Linked DNA regions of Homo sapiens: region 1 is linked to region 2. Evidence: fine-mapped expression QTL. A gene starts in region 2. The other region holds a variant in brackets. All regions are shown on one strand. Distances are from middle to middle.

Evidence for each region. PIP is the estimated chance that this variant, and not a neighbour inherited with it, causes the effect.
Region 1: its variant is fine-mapped to the expression of QRICH2 in esophagus mucosa (GTEx, PIP above 0.99).

The regions. Positions count from the first base shown.
Region 1 is chr17:76,358,628-76,366,917 of GRCh38, reverse strand. No RefSeq gene overlaps it. Among named protein-coding and RNA genes, the nearest start is that of PRPSAP1, 8.9 kb to the right of the region's middle. The variant T/C (reference allele first, on the strand shown) is at 3,360.
Region 2 is chr17:76,303,362-76,311,689 of GRCh38, reverse strand. QRICH2 (glutamine rich 2) reads left to right here and starts at 3,414. Exons shown (of 19, transcript NM_001388453.1): 1 at 3,414-4,225; 2 at 6,749-6,808; 3 at 7,165-7,275. The coding sequence starts at 3,692. It overlaps PRPSAP1 (phosphoribosyl pyrophosphate synthetase associated protein 1), which reads left to right. Exons shown (of 10, transcript NM_002766.3): 10 at 1-2,212. The coding sequence ends at 148.

The DNA.
Region 1 (8,290 bases), 55 kb before region 2:
TGTAATCCTAGTACTTTGGGAAGCCGAGGCAGGCAGATCACCTGAGGTCAGGTGAGAGAGAGAAAGAGAAAAATGAGGGGCTGGGCGGGGTGGCTCACGTCTGTAATCCCAGCACTTTGGGAGGTCAAGGTGGGTGGATCACCTGAGGTCAGAAGTTCGAGACCAGCCTGACCAACATGGTGAAACCCCGTCTCTACTAAAAATACAAATATTAGCCAGGTGTGGTGGCAGGCGCCTATAATCCCAGCTACCCGGGAGGATGAGCAGGAGAATCACTTGAACCTGGGGGTTGGAGGTTGCAGTGAGCTGAGATCACGCCACTTCTTTCCAGCCTGGGCGAAAGAGCGAAACTCCATCTCAAAAAAAAAAAAGATTGAGGCCTTTTCTCACAGACACCAGCTCTCCCCAAAAGGTGGCCCCTTCCCTCACTTCTCTCCCTCTTTCTTTCAGGGCAGGTGCAATGACATTTGACACCAACTACCTGGGGTTGGGCCTCAGGTGATGCCTTCCTCCACAGGACAGCCCTCACTTCAGACACCAGCTGCAAGTTCAGGGTCCTCACTTTTGACCAGATGGCCTCAAATTCAGGGGTTCCCACCACCCCCTCAGATTCCTAATTCACTAGAATGACTCACAGCACTCAGGTAAATGCTGAAGTTTCATTTACAGTTTTATTACAGCAAAAGAACACGAATCAGAACCAGCCACAGCCAGAAGCACTGCGTCCGGGCTGGGTGGGTCCCCGGTGCAAAGCGCTGTTATCCTCAGGGACACCTTAACCCTCCTGGTACCTCCATCTGTGACAATAGACAGAGCATCACTAACCAGGGAAGCTCACCCGAGCCTCTGTGTAGAGTTGTCCTTGGGGTTTTATATGCAGGCATGATGGAGGAATCATACACCACACACTAAACTCAAGCTCCAGCCCCTCCGTCCCCGGAAGTCAGGCTGATAACAAGTGGCTCAAAGACCCAACCTTCTAATTTTGTTTTCTTTTTCTTTCTGCTTTTTTTTTTTTTTTTTTTTTTGAGACAGGTTCTTGCTGTGTTGTTCAGGCTGGAGTGCAGTGGTGTGATCACGGCTCACTGCAGCCTCAAACTCCTGGGCTCAAATGATCCTCCCTTATGGTCCCTCTTATGGGACCGTAAGCATGCACCAACACACCCAGCTAATTTTTAAATTTTTTTGTTTGTTTGTTTGTTTTGAGACAAGGGCTCCCTCTGTCGCCCAGGCTGGAGTGCAGTGGAAGGATCATAGCTCACTGTAGCCTCAATCACCTTCCATCACCCAGGCTCCAGAGCCACAGCCTTCTAATCTCACGGTTGGTCTTCCTGGACCTAGAGTCATTTGCATAAATGATCGGGTGTCCTCCGAGGCCCGATCGTGAGTAACACAGACACTACTATCACTCAGGAAATTCTGAGGATTTACAGGTTACCTCCCAGGAACCAGGAACAAAAGCCAGTGGAATTCTCAATTCCACACAGGGTTGACAGCGTCAGTGTCGAGAGGCATCTCCCAGCCAGCCCCCTCAGTGGGTGGTTCCCTGAACCAAGAATTGGGGGTGCATTTTATTCTCAGCGGTGGGCTCTCCTAATTCCAGGAAAACGTGGAGGATCACACAGGGCACCTCACTCCTCCTTGTCATCCACTCTCCATCTCATTTAGCTCTCACAGCAACCTCCAGGCAGGGTCAGGCATGAGCCACTGTACCCAGCCTTTTTTTTTTTTTTTTTTTGAGACAGAGTCTCTCTCTGTTTCCCCGGCTGGAGTAAAGTGGTGCGATCTCTGCAACCTCCACATCCTGGGTTCAAGCAATTCTCCTGCCTCAGCCTCCCAAGTAGCTGGAATTACAGGCTCGCGCCACCACACCCAGCTAATTTTTTGTATTTTTAGTAGAGATGGAGTTTCGCCATGTTGCCCAGGCTGGTCTCAAACTTCTGACCTCGAGTGATCCGCCCGCCTCGGCCAGCCAAAGTGCTGGGATTACAGGCATGAGCCACTGTGCCCGGCCTAAGGCTTGATTTATACATTTTAGGAAGACAGAAGTTACAGGAAAAGACATAAATGGACAGAGGTAAGGTATACATTGGCTCAGCCCAGAAAGGTGGGACATCTTGAAGTGGGGGTGGTTTCCAGGTCATAGGTAGATTTCAACATTTGCTGATTGGCAATTTGTTGAAAATGGTAAGCTCTGCCTGAAGAGCTGAAATCAGCTTGAGTTATGGTAAGTGGTGGGTGGTTGTGGAAGCCAAAGTTCTTGTCTTGTAGATGACGCCTTCAGGTAGCAGGCTTCTGAGAGAAGAGATGTGAATGTCACAGGTGCCAGTCTCTCCAGAGAGACCTGAGAAGGGAAGGGGATTCTCTACAGAATGCAGATTTCCCCCATAAAAGAAAGCTTTGGAGGGCCATTTCAAAATATGTCAAAAAAATGTATTTTGGGAGACCAGGCGCGGTGGCTCATGCCTGTAATCCCAACACTTTGGGAGGCCAAGGTGGCTGGTGGATCACCTGAGGTCAAGAGTTCAAGACCAGCCTGGCCACCATGGTGAAACCCCATCTACTAAAAATACAAAAATTAGCTGGGCATGGTGGCAGGCACCTGTAATCCCACTACTCGGGAGGCTGAGGCAGGAGGCCAAGGTTGCAGTGAGCCAAGATGGCACCATTGCACTCCAGTCTAGACAAGAGCGAAACTCCATCTCAAAATTTAAAAAAAGAAATATACTTTGGGGAAAATCCTTTTGTTACTGGTGGAGGGTGTCCAGGTTTTTGGTGTCTTAAATAATTGTACAAAATTCACAAACAAACAAAGGAAAGAATGAAGCAACAAAAGCAGAGACTTATTGAAAACAAAAGTACAGGCCGGGCGCGGTGGCTCACGCCTGTAATCCCTGCAGCATTTTGGGAGGCCAAGGCAGGCGGATTACTTGGGGCCAGGAGTTCGAGACCAGCCTGGCCAACATGGTGAAACCCCGACTCTACTAAAAATACAAAAATTAGGCCAGGCGCGGTAGCTCATGCCTGTAATCCCAGCACTTTGGGAGGCCAAGGCAGGCGGATCACGAGATCAGGAGTTCAAAACCAGCCTGGCCAATATGGTGAAACCCCCATCTTTACTAAAAATACAAAAATTAGCTGGGCGTGGTGGTGCGTGCCTGTAATTCCAGCTACTCAGGAGGCTGAGGCAGAAGAATCGCTTGAACCCAAGAGGCGGGGTTTGCAGTGAGCTGAGATCGTGCAGCTGCACTCCACCCTGGGCAACAGAGGAAGACTCTGTCTCAGAAACAAAACAAAACAAAAATTATCTGGGCGTGGTGGCGATGCCTATAATCCCAGCTACTCAGGAGGCTGAGACA[T/C]GAGAATTTCTTGAACCTGAGATCGTGTCACTGCATTCCAACTTGGGTGACAGGGCAAGACTCTGTCTCAAAAAAAAAAGAAAAAACAAAACAAAAGTACACTCCACAGGGTGAGAGCAGCCTGAGCATAGGGGCTAATTTTTGGGGGTTTAAATACCCTCTAGAAGTTTCCATTGGTTACTTGGTGTACGCCCTATGTAAATGAAGGGATGAAGTAAAGTTACAAAGTCATTCACTCGGTGTACGCCCTATGTAAATGGAGAGGATATTTCCTGTCATAGTTGAAGTGTTTCCATTTGATTCAGTTCTAGGAAGTCCTTAGAGTCCCTGCTTCCAGATCCTATTCTCCTGTCTCACTTTGATTGCCTTTTTTTTTTTTTTTTTTTTAAGAGACAGGGTCTCACAGCTCACTGCATCCTCAACCTCCTGGGCTCAAGGGATCCTCCCACCTCAGCTTCCCAATTAGCTGGGAATACAGACATGAACCACCATGCCCAGCTAACTTTTGTGTTTTTTGTAGAGATAGGGTTTCACCATGTTGCCCAGGCTGGTCTTGAATTCTAGGCTCAAGCCATCCGCCCGCCTTGGCCTCCCAAAGTGCTGGGATTACAGGCGTGAGCCACCACGCCCAGCCTTATTTTTTTTACTATTTTATTTTTTGAGACAGGGTTTTGCTCTTGTTGCCCAGGCTGGAGTACAGTGGCGCCATCTCAGCTCGCTGCAACCTCTGCCTCCCAGCTTCAAGCAATTCTCCTGCCTCAGCCTCCTGAGTAGCTGGAATTGCAGGCATCTGCCACCATGCCCAGCTAGTTTTTTGTATTTTTAGTAGAGATGGGTTTCACCATGTTGGCCAGGCTGGTCTCAAACTCCTGACCTCAGGTGATCCTCCCGCCTTGGCCTCCCAAGGGAGGCTGGGATTATAAATGTGAGCCTCCATGGCCGGCCCATAGCTGCCTTTGGACATTTGCATTGTTTGGGGGTTTTTAGCTCTCATAGACCTGGACCCTCTTGAACTGACAAATTTGGCACAGTTGAGCCAAGAACCTTGTGACTTCCTGAATCATTTGCCTCCTGAGTTGTTATAATGTCTCCTTAGTGTTTGCCTCCTGCCTTCTCAGCCCCTACAGCCCTGGCCTTTTTCCTTGCTCCGTTTCTGTCTCTTCCACCCCATCTTGCCAGTGCAGCTATGAATCCGGCCATAGGGGCAAGGAAGCATGTCATTTGGCAGGAGCTTCTGCGGTGCACAGAGAGAAGGCACTAGAAGCCCCTTGAGGGTTTCCACTTGAACCAAAGTCTTCAATGATGTTCGGGCATTTCAGACCCCCTCAAATGCCTCCAAAGACTCCCACCAAGAGCTACTGAAACCGAGGCATAGGTGAGGTCGAGGACTCAGTGCCTTGTGATTCCATTTCAGATTTTCCAGAGACCAGCCCAGCAGCTGCTGCCTACCACTGTCCTTGCTGAAGCTGGGAAGGGTCACTCCTAGCAGGCTTGGCTCTGTCTGCCTGTATTTTGCTCCTGCCCCCAGCATGGTTTCTGGTACCCTATAGAGAGAATCAGCTTAGAGATCCAAGTTGGTATTATTTTTAGAAATAAAGATCACTCAGTCCCAGCTTGCTGAGGCTTGTTTGGAGAATGAAAACAGGGAAAGGCCTCATATTTTTCCAAAGTTCAAGTTGGAGTGGCGCAACGTGGATGCAAAACTTCTGAATTATTGCCTGAAATGTTCTTTATCCTTGCAAAGACTGACCTTGTCTTCCAATTAGTTCCTCCCTTGGGGACAGGGCTGAGCAATCCTAAACACACCCCTCTTTGTCTTGTCCTGTTTGTTCCTGGACAATATTTCATGCCAAATCTCTACTTATGCCACCCTTTGTCTTCTAGTTTCTAGTACAGAGGAGATCTTTCTATAATTCATGCCGAAACTGGCCCGGTTAACAAGCAGCTCATTTTTTAAAACTTGAAAACTGAAATAGGGTTGTAGATGCAAAATGTCATTTTGTGGAGGCACAGCTGTCTTCGTTCTGGCAGGAGGTATCCAGCTGGTCTGGAACCTCAAGAGTCAGTCTGGTCTTATAAAGAGAAACGGTAAAAAAAACAAAACTGGTCAAGTGAAGTCTCACTTCAAACGTCAAAAAAGACATGTTAAGGCCGGGCGCGGTGGCTCACGCCTGTAATCCCAGCACTTTGGGAGGCCGAGGCGGGCGGATCACAAGGTCAGGAGTTCAAGACCACCCTGGCCAATATGGTTGAAACCCCATCTCTACTAAAAATACAAAAATTACCCAGGCGTGGTGGCGCATGCCTGTAATCCCAGCTACTTGGGAGGCTGAGGCAGGATAATTGCTTGAACCCAGGAGGCGGAGGTTGTGGTGAGCCGAGATTGTGCCGTTGCACTCCAGCCTGGGTGACAAGAGCAAAACTTCATTTCAAAAAAAGAAAAAATCAGCCGGGCGCGGTGGCTCATGCCTGTAATCCCAGCACTTTGGGAGGCCGAGGAGGGCGGATCACAAGGTCAGGAGATCGAGACCATCCTGGCTAACACGGTGAAACCCCGTCTCTACTAAAAATACAAAAAATTAGCCAGGCGTGGTGGCGGGCGCCTGTCGTCCCAGCTACTCAGGAGGCTGAGGCAGGAGAATGGCGTGAACCCGGGAGGCGGAACTTGCAGTGAGCCGAGATTGTGCCACTGCACTCCAGCCTGGGTGACAGAGCAAGACTCAGTCTCAAAAAAAAAAGAAAGAAAGAAAGAAAAAAATCCCTGACCCATCAGTAAAAATGAAGACTCTGTGGAAGTTGTCAGAAGCAAAATTGAGTCACTTGTGTTAAAACAAAACAAAAAGCTCTGACAAATAGAGCTGGGAAAGGCTATAAAGAGAAGGTTCTTATGCATAAATGCCAGATAACAAAAACTATCACGGAAGACTCAGCAAAAATCACAACCTTGCACAAAGGCCACTGAAACCTTACACAAAAAATACTTCTGCGAGGGCATCTGCCCAGCAACTGCCTGTACAACCTGGCACTGGGTCACACTTGTTGTTGATCCTTGTAGCCAAGGAAAATTATCCCAAAACAATTGTGTAATCCCCCTCAATCTTCCTCTAAAAACGTTCGTCCTCCTTTACCTAGTTGGATACACACATAGTTTACTATGGCACACATATTCCCATTGTCATGCCCGATCCCAAATAAACGTTGCTTTATTTCAGAGAGTCTCTCTCTCTTTTTTGTTTTGAGACAGAGTCTCACTCTGTTGCCCAGGCTGGAGTGCAATGGGGCGATCTCGGCTCACTGCAACCTCAGCCTCCCGGATTCAAGCGATTCTCCTGCCCTAGCCTCACTAGCAGCTGCGAATATAGGCGGATGCCACAACACCCAGCTAATTTTTGTATTTTTAGTAGAGACAGGCTTTCACCATGTTGGTCAGGCTGGTCTCGAACTCCTGACCTCAGGTGATCCTCCCACCTCGGCCTCCCAAAGTGCTGGAATTACAGGCGTGAGCCACCATGCTGGGCCACAAATTCTGTTTAACAAGATTAAATCTGACTCCAAGTCCTCTGCCAGGACTGGTACATAAAAGAGCCCCAGGGCCTTCCGCAGTTCCTGAGCTTCAAGGAGAGCCTCCGGTCTTCATTCTTTCCTCATCTTTATGAGAGTCCCCAGGGTACTTGTTGGAGTCCCCACCTCCTCGTCCAACTGTCCCTTCAATTTGTGAGGACTCCCCCTCTCCAAGGCTGGGGCACTCAGGGACACTTCAGTTCTTGCCTTTGGGAATTTAGGCTTTCAATAATAAAAGCCTCAATTCCAGCTGCTCGGGAGCGTCATTTGAACCCAGGAGTTTGAGTCCAGCCTGGGTAACATAGTGAGACCCTGTCTCTTAAAAAATAAATAAATAAAAATAATAAAAGCCTCTTAAGGGAGTCTCAGGTCCTCAAACACGTCCCTGTGCGCCTTCTTTCTCTTAAGACATGCAGGAAAATATGACTCAGATAATGTCTAAGTCAGGTTATTTTGCCACTTTGTTTATGAGCATTTCCCCATCATCAATGATTCTTTTAAAAGCAAACCTTTTTTTTTTCGTTTGAGACAGTCTTGCTCTGTCACCCAGGCTGGAGTGCAATGGTGTGGTCTTGGCTCACTGCAACCTCCACCTCCCGGGTTTAAGTGATTCTCATGCCTCAGCCTCCCGAGTAGCTGGGATCCGAGGTGCTCCTCACCACATCTGGTTAATTTTTGTATTTTTAGTAGAGATGTGGTTTCGCCATGTTGGCCAGGCTGGCCTTGAACTCCTGATCTCAGGTGATCCACCTGCCTTGGCCTCCCGAAGTGCTGGGATTGTAGGCGTGAGCCATTGTGCCAGACAAAGCAAACGTTTTTTTTTTAATTTTAATTTATTATTTATTTATTTAGAGACAGGGTCTCGCTCTGTGGCCCAAGCTAGAGTGCAGTGGCGCAATCTCGGCTCACTGCAACCTCCACCTCCCAGGTTAAAGCGATTCTCCTACCTCAGCCTCCTGAGTAACTGAGATTACAGGTGCCTGCTACCACACCTGGCTAATTTTTGTTATTTTTAGTAGAGATGGGTTTTGCCATGTTGGCCAGGCTGGTCTCAAACTCCTGACCTCAGGTAATCCACTAGCCTCGGCCGCCCAAAATGCTGAGATTACAGGCATGAGCCACCATGCCCAGCCTTGTTTGATTAATTGATTGATTGCTTGATTGATTTTGAGATGGAGTCTCGCTCTGTCGCGCAGGCTGGAGTGCAATGGCGTGATCTTGGCTCGCTGCAACCTCCACCTCTGGGTTCAAGCCATTCTCCTGCCTCAGCCTCCCGAGTAGCTGGGATTACAGGCGCCCACCACCACGCCCAGCTACTTTTTTGTATTTTTAGTAGAGACAGGGTTTCACTATGTTGGCCAGGCTGGTCT
Region 2 (8,328 bases):
GAATACTGTCCCTCATGAGGTTCAGAAGCTGCAATGTCCCAAGATAAAGACTGTGGATATCAGTTTGATTCTTTCTGAAGCCATTCGGAGAATCCACAATGGAGAGTCCATGGCCTACCTTTTCCGAAACATCACTGTGGATGACTAGCTTTCACGAGGGTCTCGACCCTGGACCTCCTGAGGGAAACATGGAAAAAGCAGTGCCATGAGTGATACAGTGTTTCCTTGCAAGGGAGGACTCGAAACAGCCTGGAGTTAGATATCTTCTTTTGCCCGGATTGATGGGGAGGAGGGATTAAAAGAGTCAGGAAGAAGACAGAGCTAATGGATAAATATCATAACATGGCCTTACATGTCTGCTGTCATCAGCCCTGTTCCTTAAAAGTTCTAGCTGCTTTCTTAAAAATAATCTGAAAATCTTATTGATACTAAAGAGGAGTTAAAGGCACATAAAGTCTTAACTCTATAATGTTCATTTAGTTGTTTCAGCTCCAGGGAAATGGAGGTATTGATGTTGAACCTGGTTAGGGAAGCTGAGCGCCTGTGGCCCTATTACTATCCAGTTGGCCTCTCCCAAATCAACTTCAAGTCTTTTATAGAGAATCGTATTTTTCTTTCAGAAATTGTTATGCCTACAGCCATTGAAAAATGAAGCATTCATGTTGTTACATCTTCCAAGGATGTCAGATTAGAAAATAGCATCCCACCTCTGGGTATCTGAGTGGCTCTGAAGTTGCAAATAAAATAATTTGTTGTCTTGCTAGTCTTTTCATTAGACAGCAGAAGACCATGGATACAGAACAGCAGTCAGGTCTGTGGCTGGACACAAACACTTTCCCAGGTTCCACCCTCTTCCTAAGTGTTGAAGCTAAATCCTTGTTGAATACTGTATTTTAAATCTTTAAAAAAAAAAAAAAAAAGTCTAGGTGTGGTGGCTCACACCTATAATCTGAGTACTTTGGGAGGCTGAGGCAAGGAGGATTGCTTGAGCCCAGGAGTTTCAGACCAGCCTGGGAAACATGGCGAAACCCCCATGTCTACAAAAAATACAAAAATTAGCCAGGCATTGGTAGCATGTGCCTGTAGTTCCAGCTACCTTGGGAGGCTGAGGTGGGAGGATTGCCTGAGCCAAGGAGGTTGAAGCTGCAGTGAACTATGATTGTACCACTGCCATCCATCCTGGGTGACAGAGCAACACCCTGTCTCAAAAAAAAAAAACAGGCCAGGGATCGTGTCTTATGCCTGTAATCCCTGCACTTTGGGAGGCCGAGGCAGGTAGATCACCTGAGGTCAGGAGTTTGAGACCAGCCTGGCCAACATGGCAAAACCCCGTCTCTACTAAAAATACAAAAATTAGCCTAGCTAAGTTAAAAGCATAAAAAGACTACAAAGAGGCCAGGCATCATGGCTCACGCCTGTAATCCCAGCACTTTGGGAGGCCGAGGTGGGCAGATCACTTGAGGTCAGGAGTTTGAGACCAGCCTGGCCAATATGGTGAAACCCTGTCCCTACTAAAAATACAAAAATTAGCCGGGTGTTGGGGGAGGGGGTGCACGCCTGTAATCCCAGCTACTCGGGAGGCTGAGGCAGGAGAATTAATTGGTTGAACCCAAGAGGCAGAGATTGCAGTGAGCTGAGATTGTGCCACTGCACTCCAGCCCAAGTGACAGAGCAAGATTCCATCTCAAAAAAAAAAAAAGACTGCAAAGAACTAGTTATTTTGATAACCCCTTAAAGGCCTACTGTGTCCCAAGTTATTGGAATATAATGATGATCGAAAATCCTTCAATTAAATAAACAGTACCTCTCAGGCTGAAGTGAAAAATCTGAACTTGAACAGTAGTTAAAATAGTACAGTTATTCCTTACAATCCATGGGTGATTGGTTCCAGGACTCAACCTCCTGCCCATGGATGTGCAAGTCCCTGATAGAAAATGGTGTAGTATCTGCATATAAGCTATGCACATCCTGGATGACTTGTAATACCTACTGCAATATCCTGTGTAGATGGTGGTCATGCTGTATTATTTAGAGAATCATGACAGGAATCTGTACGTGTTCAGTCGTGGTTGGTTAAATCTGCAGATGCAGAGCTCACGGAGGAGGCTGGCCATGCATGGCACACATTCATAGGTTCTCTTTAAGTAGCCTTGCTGTGCTTCTGTTAGGAAGTTTTATTTATACGTTTTTGGGAAGAATCTTGTATGGGGAAGTCATGTCTCAATTGTTAACACCAGATTTGTCTCGTGCTGTTTAATCCTGCTTTGTAATGAGCTCAAGCACAGGCGCTTGACCAGGTGAGTGGTTTCTTTTCTTTTCTTTTTTTTTTTTTTTGAGACAGAGTCTTGCACTGTCGCCCAGGCTGGGGTGCAGTGGTGCGATCTTGGCTCACTGCAACCTCTGCCTCCCGGGTTGACGCGATTCTCCTGCCTCAGCCTCCCGAGTAGCTGGGATTACAGATGCGCGGTACCATGCCCGGCTAATTTTTTGTATTTTTAGCAGAGGGGTTTCACTATGTTGGCTAGGCTGGCCTTGAACCCCTTACCTCAGGTGATCCACCCGCCTCGGCCTCCCAAAGTGCTGGGATTACAGGTGTGAGCCACCAAGCCTGGCCGTTTTTTTGAGATCAATTAATTTATGGCAGGCTGGGCGCGGTGGCTTACACCTGTAATCCCAGCACTTTGGGAGGCCGAGGTGGGTCGATCACTTGAGGTCGGGAGTTCAAGACCAGCCTGGCCAACATAGTGAAACCCCGTCTCTGCTAAAAATACAAAAAATTAGCCGGGCATGGTACCACGCATCTGTAATCCCAGCTACTCGGGAGGCTGAGGCAGGAGAATCATGTCAACCCGGGAGGCAGAGGTTGCAGTGAGCCGAGATCGTGCCATTGCACTACAGCCTGGGCGACAGAGCAAGACTCCCTCTCAAAAGTAAAAAAAAAATTATGGCAGCACAGAAAAGGGACAATTAGCCACCAGTTAGTCATCTAGTGGCTAATTGGAACTGCCTGAATAGTGAGTGGGTTGTCTTTTCCAAGTTGCTTCACCTTTGATTGAACAAAATATGTGGACTGTCTGAGGGGACCAGGGCCCCAGGACTGCATCCCTTAGACATGGGGCCATAGACATGGGGCCACCACTCTGGAATGGACGCAGCTGATGACACAAAGCATGGTTGCCAGGAAACCCTCAAGTCTTTCCTTATGTGGCCCCGCCAAGAGTGAGTGAATCCTGGCCTTTCTAGGTTAAGGGGATGGATGGAGTCTAGCTGGATCTTAGGAGGCCTCCTCAGCCCGTTGCCAAGGCTCCCCTTGTGATCCTTGTGGTGGCCTTTACTTCCCCCCGCCCCCGTGGCTCGCAGGGAGGCGTGTTGTTACGTGGAATCTTCAGGGCACGCGGGGGCCCCCACGTTTCAAACGTCCGCCGGCGCGGGGACTGGGAGTCCAGGGCTCCAGCTCGGGGACCCGAGGCCAGCGACAGACAGCGGAGGGGTGGCCATCGCGGACCCCGCCGGGGAGCGGAGGCGCAGATTCCCTGGAGGCAGGAGCTCTGTCCAGTGACTCGGCCGGACCCGGGGCAGGGGCGCCCCGAGGACCTCGCAGGGCCCCCGAAAGGCCCCAAGGCGCGGCGTGCAGTGAGCGGGAAGTGGTTGGCCGGCGCCCCGCGGCGGCGCACAGCTCCTGACAGCCACGATGCCGCCCGCGACCACGGTCTCCCTCCGGGAGCTGGCGGACCTCTCCATCGGCACGCCAGAGGTGGGCGCCGTCAACTTCACGGCCCTGCACACGCTCATCGTGGCCATGCTCAAGAACCTCGACCTCCAAAATACCCGGATCGACTTCCAGCCCTCGTCGCCCGAGCCCAGCCGCTCGCTGCAGTCCGTCCGGAGCTCGTTCAGCATCCCGCACCTGCCCGCGCCCAAGGAGGTGCCCAAGGGGGCGCCCCGGGAGAAGCGCAGGGGCGTGGGCCAGGCGCCTTCGTCAGCGCTGGAGAGCCAAGTGAAGGACCTGGGCGGCCAGGTGGAGGACCTGAGCAAGCAGCTCAAGCGTGTGGACGGCCAGGTGCAGGGCATCGCCACGCACGTGCAGCACTTCTCCCAGGCCAGCGGGCTTGACCTGGCCGCGCTAGAGTGGCCGGAGGAGCAGGAGGTGGGCGTGCGGGCGTTCGATAGGGTGCGGACTGGGAGTATCATGAAGGACGCCGCCGAGGAGCTCAGCTTTGCCAGGGTGAGCACGCACACGGAGGCACGCGCAGGCCGTCTGCCTCCTCCAGGCCGCCCTCCAGGCCTAGCCGAGTCCCCACCACCCTGGAGGGGTGAGCGGTGGTGGGGACGGAGGGGATGGGGACCGAGGAGGTGCCAGACCTCAGTGCGACTGGCTAAATAGAGTGGCCCATGCTCTACCTTGCAGTCCACGGGGCTGCAAGACGTGAAAATCCTAAAAGAACGCCACCAAAAGGCCTAGGGCCTCCCCGAGCTGGAGGGGCCTGGGGACCCCACCTCCTAAGTGTAGTGGCCCCATCCCACCCCCTCCTTCCTAGCCCCTGTTTACGGGAGAGGTTCGCCCACCACTTATCAGACATCCAAGGACCCAGAGCTGGCTCAGAGTGGGGCCGGCAACTTCTCAGAAGATTCTTAGAGTGAATTCCCTTTTTAAAATGAATAAGGACATGAAGAGATACGTGTTGAGGACAAAGGCTCCCAGAGAAGGGGAGTCAGGATGGAGAGTTGGACCTCAGCTTCCTATGGCCATGACACAAGCCACAGCAGGCAGGGGACCGTTTCACTTGGACTTTTTTTTTTTTTGAGAAGGAGTCTCACTCTATCACCCAGGCTGAAATGCAGTGGTGCAGTCTCGGCTCACTGCAACTTCCGCCTCCCAGACTCAAGCGATTCTCCTGCCTCAGCCTCCCGAGTAGCTGGGATTATAGGCGCGCGCCACCCCGCCTGGCTAATATTTGTGTTTTTAGTAGAGAAGGAGTTTCACCATGTTGGCGGGGCTGGTCTCAAACTCCTGACCTCAAGTGATCTGCCCGCCTCGGCCTCCCAAAGTGCTGGGCATTACAGGCGTGAGCCACTGAGCCCTGCCTTCAACTGGACTTTTGTTTTCTTGGAGGGACAAATGCATGTAATCATTGAGTATAAGTATTGTCCAGTGAACAGCAGGAAGCAACGCAGGTCAGCGCCAGGAGGTAATAGACACGTGCATGTCTCAGAGCCACCTTAGGTTGGTTCTGAAAGAAAAAGCAGAAGCAACTAGGAAGGCAGCTGGGTGGGGAGGCCAAGAGGAGAGACAGGAGGGGAAAAAGAGGCCGGGAAGAGGCAGGAAGAAGAGGCCAAGCCCCAGCAGGGGAGCCCTGGCCGCTCATGCCCTCCTGCCATATCACCCCAGGTCTCGAGACCGCAGCACCAACTCACTTTTGCTCTGGGAAGCATGTCTGCTTTCCTTTTCAAACTTTAAAGTGTGGTGGGGGTTTTTTTTGTTTTAATTTTTTTGGGTTTTTTTTTTTTTTTTTTTTTTTTTGAGACACATTCTCACTCTGTCACCCAGGCTGGAGTGCAGTGGTGCATTGTCGGCTCACTGCAACTCCATCTCCTGGGTTCAAGGAATTCTCCTGCCTCGGCTTCCCGAGTAGCTAGGATTATAGGTGCACACCACCATGCCCAGCTAACTTTTGTACTTTTAGTAGAGATGGGGTTTTGCCGTGTTGGCCAGGCTGGTCTCGAACTCCTGACCTAAAGTGATCCTCCTGCCTCGGCTTCCCAAAGTGTTGGGATTACAGGCAAGAGCCACTGCGCCTGGCCTTTTGTTTTAATTTTTACGTAATCTTAGATTCTAGAAGTTTGCAAAAGTTATAAAAAGTAACTTGTTTTATTTTTGTTTATTAATATATTTTTTCTTAATCCCAAATATGATAGCACCTTATGTTGTAGCGATTTGCTTTGGTTCTTTTGAGGTGCTTTTCTCTTTAGATAGCACAGATGTTCAGCTACTGTTGAGGTACCTGGCACCCTTCCTTCCTTGTAAGGCAAGGTGGGCCTCATCCTACAGGCTTTCACAAGTGGGTTGGAGCAAACTGAATCCCAGGACCAAAGGGTCCCATCCCTGCAGCAGCACTTACTCCTGCCATGCTACCAGCCAGGTCCCCCACTGCATCTCACTTCCCTTCCTGCACTTGGCTGGGAAAAGACCCAGGAGCCTGGGCTGACTGGCCAGGTAAAAACCAGGTAGAAAGCAGGGGCTCCTGCCTGTAATCTCAGCACTGTGGGAGGCCGAGGCTGGAGGATTGCTCGGACCCAGGAGTTCAAGACCAGCCTGGGCAACATTGCAAGATCTTATCTCTACAAAAAAATGTTTAAAATTAGCTGGATGTGGTGGTGCATGCCTGAAGTCCCAGCTACTCAGGAGGCTGAGGTGGGAGGATCGCTTGAGCCTGAGAGGTTGAGGCTGCAGTGAGCTGTGGTGGCATCACTGCACTGCAGCTTGGGTGACAGAGCAAGACCCTGTCTCAAAAAAAAAAAAAAAAGGAAACCAAAAAAACCCAAGTAGAAGAAGAAACCCTCCCTTTCCATAAGAGCCACACAAATTCCCCCTTTCCTCGTCTCCTGGCACTGAGTCAGTGTGTGAATGTGCGTGTATGCATGTGTGTGTCTGAGTGTGAGAGTGTGTGTGCGCATCTGTGTGTGTGTGCATGTGAGTGTGCGTGTGTAGGGGCCACTGTCATTCTCCTTTCCTGAACTCTTCTTCCAGGTACTTTTACAGCGGGTTGATGAACTAGAGAAGCTATTCAAAGATCGGGAGCAATTCCTGGTAATACCAGCCAGTTCCATGGGAAAGGGCTCTCCAGGGGGCTGGCCGTCTCTCAGTGTGGCCCTCTCTCCAGGGCTTGTCCATCCAGGGCAGGCAGTGTGTGCCCTCTGCCTCTCAAGTCTCTGCCCCAGGGTTGGAGGGAAATCTGCCCCAGCCCTGCCCAGCGCTCTGCTGGGTGCTCACATGGGACAGATAACTGGCTGCCCAACCTTCACTGGTCACTTGAAGGGTGATGAATTCTCCCTGGGGCTGGGGCTGTGAAGGACCCACCCAGATCCTGTTAGACCAAGTCTGTTCCTAAAGCTGCTTGGGATTAATCAAGGGGTGTATGTGTGTGTCTTTTCTGTCACTGTCAGGAACTAGTCAGCCGGAAGCTGAGTTTGGTTCCTGGTGCAGAAGAAGTCACCATGGTCACCTGGGAAGAGCTGGAGCAGGCGATTACGGACGGCTGGAGAGCCTCACAAGCGGTGAACCAGTGGGGGCCTGGGCCGTGGTCTTGGGTGGGGCTCCCCAGAACTTCTCGCTTTGTACAGCTGCACAGGATTCTGTTCTATGGATATTCATAGTTCGCAAGTTTCATTGATATGGGTGTTTTAAATGCTTTTTCCAATCTTAAGAACAAGGTGTCATTCACGTGTGAATAACATGCATCCCTAGAAAGGGATGTGTGTTAGTGATTTGGCTAGCCATTGATAAATTGCCTTCCATGGCTGCTGTTCCAGTGTAGACCCCCACCATCAATGGGAGAGAGAGCTTGTTCCCTGACATCCCCCCAGCGCTGTATGGTTGGTACCCAATTTTTTTAGCTTTGCCAACCCACTGGATCAATAGAAAAATCGTACCTGAGTGTAGTTTTTATTTGCTTTTATACCTTCTCAAACTTTCTTTACAGTCTGTCCTGAAATGCAGGGATCTTTCCTTATTAGTGGACCATGGTGACAGACCCTGGAAGTAAAACCTCTGTAGGGGGCCCTTTGCTGGTGGCGACTTTTTTTTTTTTTTTTTTTTTGAGACAGAGTTTTGCTCTATTACCCAGGCTGGAGTGCAGTGGCGCGATCTCGGCTCACTGCAAGCTCCGCCTCCCGGGTTCACGCCATTCTCCTGTCTCAGCCTCCAGAGTAGCTGGGACTACAGGCGCCCACCACCACGCCTGGCTAATTTCTTTTTGTATTTTTAGTAGAGACGGGGTTTCACGGTGTTGCCCAGGAAAGTCTCGATCTCCTCACCTCGTGATCCGCCCGCCTCGGCCTCCCAAAGTGCTGGGATTACAGGCGTGAGCCACCGCGCCCGGCCGCTGGTGGCGACTTTTGCACACAGGCATGCATCTGTCTGTCTTGAGACAGTGTACAGATGACCAAATTGTTTTCCGATCCCCGACCTACTTTCATCTGATTAAAATCAAGCTGGATATATTCAAATGGCCCTCAAAGATGAGGCTTAACTTCCCTTTTGGTCTTGACATCCCTCCCGCTGGCTTTGGGCTAGTGGGTTATCAAAACAAGCAAGCCAACTTTGAGGGC